Linked DNA regions of Homo sapiens: region 2 is linked to region 1. A link means that fine-mapping ties the variant in region 1 to the expression of a gene that starts in the linked region. Tissue or cell type: whole blood. Region 1 holds a variant in brackets; the other region holds the start of a gene. All regions are shown on one strand. Distances are from middle to middle.

What was found. PIP is the estimated chance that this variant, and not a neighbour inherited with it, causes the effect.
Region 2: INF2 starts here. The variant in region 1 is fine-mapped to the expression of INF2 in whole blood (TOPMed, PIP above 0.99).

Annotation. Positions count from the first base shown.
Region 1 is chr14:104,715,685-104,718,360 of GRCh38, forward strand. All of the region lies in intron 22 of INF2 (inverted formin 2), which reads left to right. Among named protein-coding and RNA genes, the nearest start is that of ADSS1, 7.2 kb to the right of the region's middle. The variant A/G (reference allele first, on the strand shown) is at 1,282.
Region 2 is chr14:104,688,509-104,691,184 of GRCh38, forward strand. INF2 (inverted formin 2) reads left to right here and starts at 1,110. Exons shown (of 23, transcript NM_022489.4): 1 at 1,110-1,231. RefSeq lists enhancers at 1-91, 92-1,081 and silencers at 774-1,033, 1,134-1,223, 1,244-1,483, 1,574-1,623.

The sequences.
Region 1 (2,676 bases):
AGGACAGGCTGAGGTTGCTCCTGTCTGGTGTCCTGGCGCTAACTGCAGTTCCAGTAACCCTGTGGCTTTCCTGCTCTGTCTGTTGGTGGAGGGCTATCTTCACTCTAAGTGTGTCAATGGCGTGGGGCCTTCTGGGGCATGTCCCCAGGAAGTCTGTGAGGAGACCGGGACAGTCGCAAGGGCAGATGCTGCCAGGGACAAGTACACTGCAACCCCCCTCCTGTTGGACAGTGTCCTCCCACCCCGAGGCCATGGGTGGGTCTATGGAGAAGCAGATTACCCCCCGCACACCGAGTCTTCTGGGGGGCGACCAGCCAAAGGTCAATCAGCCAGGTCCGTCCACAGGGCTGGAGAGGCCAATGCATCCAGCTAGACAGGACCAGCCTGCACTGGGTGGAGGAGGGGCTAGAGCAGAGAACCAGAAGGTCCAGCCCGGCCGATCATGAGCTCTGTGAGCCCAGGTCGTGGCGTCTTCCAGCACCTCCAGCCTTGCTCAGAGCCAGCCCGGTGTCGGTGCATCACAAATATGCTGACCGCTGGGCCTGGGGCTTAGGCTCAAGGTGCACACCTGAGGTCTGCTGGTGCCCATCAGAGGCAAGAGCAGTCGTGACCCCGGAGAAGCTTCTCCGGACAGCTTGTCCTCGCTGTTGGGGCACGGCCTTCACCCTGGGTTCCAGCTTTTGCTTCCAGGGTCATCTTCCGAGTGTGGCTCTCTGGTGTGAAGCACCCACGTGTACTTTTTAGAAAGGTGCTGGCATCTCCCTTAGAGGCTGGAACTTGGACTTGCTGGCCCTGAGTGTGAGGAACAGTGGAGCATGCAGGTCTGGGGCGGGCGGCCACATCTGACAATGGTCCAGTGAAAGATGGACGTGTCCAGTGCCAGCTCCACGCTCCACCTGGTTCCCTCCTGAACCTGCTACACGTGCTTAGCCTCCACCCGCCCCAGCTCCTGCCACGCACGTGGCTGAGGGCAAGAGGAAGAAGTCCTCTTCTCTCCCCAACTTTTTATTTTTTATTTTTTTTCAAGACGGAGTCTCACTCTGTTGCCCAGGCTGGAGTGCAGTGGTGCGATCTGAGCTCACAGCAACCTCCACCTTCCAGGTTCAAGTGATTCTCCTGCCTCAGCCTCCCGAGTAGCTGGGACCACAGGCACACGCCACCACGCGCGGCTAATTTTTTGTATTTTTAGCAGAGACAGGGTTTCACCATGTTGGTCAGGCTGGTCTCGAACTCCTGACCTCAGGTGATCCACCCGCCTCGGCCTCCCAAAGTGCTGGGATT[A/G]CAGGCGTGAGCCACCGTGCCCAGCCCCCACCTTTTTATTTAGAAAATCTTCAACACCACAGGAAACTGCATAGATCAGAATGAACAACACCTTCTCCCCGAAATTACAACCATTTGCCAAAAATACCAAAATTGTGACCATTTTGCTACATTGCCCCCCTCCAACTGAGGCATCTGAGAGTTTCTTATAAACATCATGGCACTGGAGCCCTAAACTCGCCCACAGACACCTGAGAGCACAGCCGTCTTCCTCAGTCCCCCCCGGGCAGGGTGCGCTGCCGTCCTCCCAGTCCGCCCCCACCGGGCAGGGTGCGCTGCCGTCCTCCCAGTCCCCCCCCCGGGCAGGGCGCGCTGCCGTCCTCCTAGTCCGCCCCCCCGGGCAGGGTGCGCTGCCGTCCTCCCAGTCCCCCCCGGGCAGGGTCCGCTGTGGGGCGCTTCACGTCCACATGCTTCTAATACTCGGTCCCAGTGCAGATGTGCCACTTGCCCCAATAATTCCTTCTCTAGTTGTTGCTTTGTTGTTTTTGCAAACAAGATTGTATCCAGAGTCACATGCTGTGTTTGGTTATCATATCACTTCAGTCTCTTTTGTTCTAGAACATTCCTGCCCCTTTTTGTCTTGTATGACATTGACGTTCTGGAAGATAACTTCACTTTGGGTTTGCCTGATTGCGCCCCCAAGTAGGTCCAGGTTGAGTTTTGGGGCAGGAGTTCTACCCCAAGGGATGCCATGTCCTCCCCAGCTGGGTGGGGACGTTTGTGGCAGCAGCGCTGACCACGGCTGCGGGGGTGGTTTCTGAACCTCCACTGCACGAACACCACGCTGTCTGGTTAATAAGCACCGGTGGTGACCTGTGGAACCAACCGCTGCAGCGCGGTTCTGTGTTCGCCGCCCCTCGTCCGAGCGTTCCCCCCTCCCCTCCCTTTTTCCATCACGTGAGTTTTGAACGTGCAGTAATCCTTCACTGCCACTGCCGTGCATTTGATGGGGACCAGCGGGGGCCCTGAGCGCTTCCCATCTTTGGCACAAGCCCCTGTTCCTAGCTCACCCCAGACTTGCTGATCCCCCCATCCCTGCACGGGCCTTGGTCTTGGCCATTTCTCCAGGTTCCCTGAGTGGGGAATGGTGCTGAGACCCTCCTTTGAGTGATTGTTTTGGATAGTTTTTGTTTTCTTGCTGTCTGTTTAGAGTAGTGGTTCTCAAACCCTGCTTGGGCCATCCCACTGGGGAGCTGGGACACCACCTGGCACTGTGGTGGCAGTGGGGGTGACACTCAGACAAGGGCCATCGAGGGCCCCTGGACCAGAAAGCGAAGAGGGCGTTGGGGGCAGGAGGCCTGTGGGGCCATGTGTGGGGGCCGTCTGGGTGGCGGGAGCTGTTGGGGCAGGGCTGAG
Region 2 (2,676 bases), 27 kb before region 1:
ATGTCAGGACTCCGAGTGGAGACACTTTATCCGCATGTTCTTGACCCTCATACAGCCCTTACGGGTACTTATTCTATTTTACAGATGGGGAAACTGAGGCTCCACAGAGTCATATCCGAGCCTGAGGCCGCACAGGGAGTGCTGGCGCCGGTTCTCAGGGCAGGGGTTGTGTCTGCTCTGTCACATGTCACACGGGGGCTCCCCCAGGCCTGCCTTCCTCTGCCCTCCCTCTAGCTGCCAGTGGCCCCCAAACCCCAGGCCTGGTGCGCTGCTTCCTGCAGCTCTGACTGAGGGTCAGACGTCAGAAGGGACTTCCAGAGCTGGGGTCTGGCTCTCATCCAACCAGGCTGGCTTTCAGAGCCGACTATGGGCACGCCCCATGCTGGTCAATGTCGGCGGTGGGGGGATGGGTGCCCCCCTCAATCTAGGAGACAGATGAGGCCGGACAGCAGAGGGGTGGCAGAGAAAACCCACCCCATTGCGACACCTCCGCGGCCCTCATGCAGCTGTCTCCACCAACCGGCGAAGTGCGGCTGCCCAAGACCGCCGAGACCCCATCAAGGGTGGAAGGGGGTCAGGCAGGGCTGCGGAGAGGAGGCCACATGGGTGGCCTGGTTGATGGGTAGGCTCTCTCTCCCCAAAGCCTGGGAAGAGCCATCTCTGCTGAGGGATCCCCGAACGCGGGGACTCCGGATCCGGCTGGCTGGAACGGGAGTCCCGGGCCGGGGCAGAGAGAGGTGAGCGGCGCCTGGGAGGCCAGTCCCACCGGAGGATAGGGGTGTAGGTGGACGGGAGGCGGTGGAGGGCAGGGACGGGGCGGACAGTGGGGGCTGAGGCGGGAGACGGCCCCGATCTGCGCGTCCCACCCCCATCTCCGCCCACCAGGAGCCAGGCCAGCAGGGACCGCGAGGGGGCGGCCAGGTTATTCACGGGAGTGGGGAGACCCCTTAAAGCGCCCTCAGGGACCGGCCACAGTGGGCGGGGCCACCCCCAGCCACCCACCTCCCCCCCCAGGCCCCGCCCCCGGCCCGCGCTCGCTCCCCACGTGGCCGCTGACGGGCGGGGCGGCACCTCCTCTTCCTCCCGCCCGCCCCGCCCGCCCCGCGCCCGCCAGGAGCCACCGTCCGAGCCTTGCGGAGCGCGGCAGTGGGCGCCGGCTGCCCGCAGCCCCTGACCCGGCCCCGGACGGAGCGCCGGCCGCACCACCGCCCTCTGGCCGTTGCCTCACCGGGTAAGTCCTTGGCCTCGGGGTCCGCTTGGAGCTTCAGGGGAAACTGAGTCCGGGAGGAGGCAGGGGCGTGCTTGGGTCCAGGAGCGAGGTTCCGGGCTGCGGCGTGTGTGCCCAGGTGGCGGCGGGCGGTCCGGCGGCGCAGGGTACAGTTCCCGGGCGGGGACCCCAGGGCGCCCCTGGCCCCCCCGGCTCCGCGCGCCCCGCTCGGGACTATGGTCCTCCGCGCCGAGGCACCGCCCGAGCGCGCACTGGCCGCAGAGTGGTGGGCCCAGGGTCGGCCGGGCCTACTCCCAGGGCAGGCGGGATTTCCGCGCCTCGCGGCTGCCACATCCTGACCATGAATCAGCCACAGTTGGGAAAATAAACTTCAACTTCGGGTCCGCCGCCCGGGTGGCACCCCGAGGTGCGCGCCGGCCTGCGGCCCCACCCTGACTGCTTGGCTTCCAGCTGCCCACGCGCAGGTGGGCGCACAGGGAGCCCTTCCCACCCCGCAACCGCTGGCAGGCTTAGGGGAATCAGCCTCCATCACAGCTCTCTGTTCCTTTTGGGTGGGGTAGGATCCAATCCCTGTACGCCCCCAGACCCACCCGTCAACCCTCTAACTGGGGAGTCGCCCCAGGAGTGACCATGACTAAGGAGGGGAAGGCGGGGTGACCAGCTGTGTCCCTGACCGTCCCCAATGCCCCCTGGGGAGCACAGGCGTGGGGGGTGGTCTGTCTGTCTGGGCCTTCTGGGGCTCAAGCTCCCCACCCAGGGCTCCCGCAGCTCAGCTGTGACCACAGCATTACTGCCCACTCCAGCTGGACACACCAGGAGGCAGAGAGGCAGAGACCCTGCCCAGGCAGGGAACCAGGAACCCAGGAACCGGGCCAGAGGTCAGGCACACCCAGAAGGCGCTGGACGTAGGAAATTCCCTTACTGCCAGCCCTGCCCCTCCGTCTGGCACTGGAATGGAGCAGGATACTCGCCCTCTTCCGGCCTCAGTTTCCACATCTGCACTCTGAAGGGTGGGACAGCAGCTCAGGCTGGGACCTGCTCCCTGCCGCCCTGCACTGGGAAGGTGGGGTCCCAGAGCAGTGCCTCAGACCCCGAGGGTGCCACCCAGCCAGGGGCTTTTGGGGTGTCGGTGCTCAGCCCCCAGTGCAGCAAATAGTAGCATTGGGTTCCAGGCCTGGGGTCTGAGACCTCACACTGCTCCCACCCCTACCAGGGCAGCAGCAATTTTCTGTTCTAAAAGCCAGGTTGGTGCAGTGGGCCCTGCCCAGGCCCTGCCCTCCCATCCCTGGACTGTCATGGGCCCTGCAGCCCGGCAAAGGGGATGTCGCTAGTGGGGACGGACCAAGTGGCCAGGTGCGACTGTAGCCTCCACAGCCAGGGCTCCTGAGTTAACCTTCAGGTGAGCGCCCACTTTGTGGAGGAGCTGACGGCTGTCAAGCGAATGACAC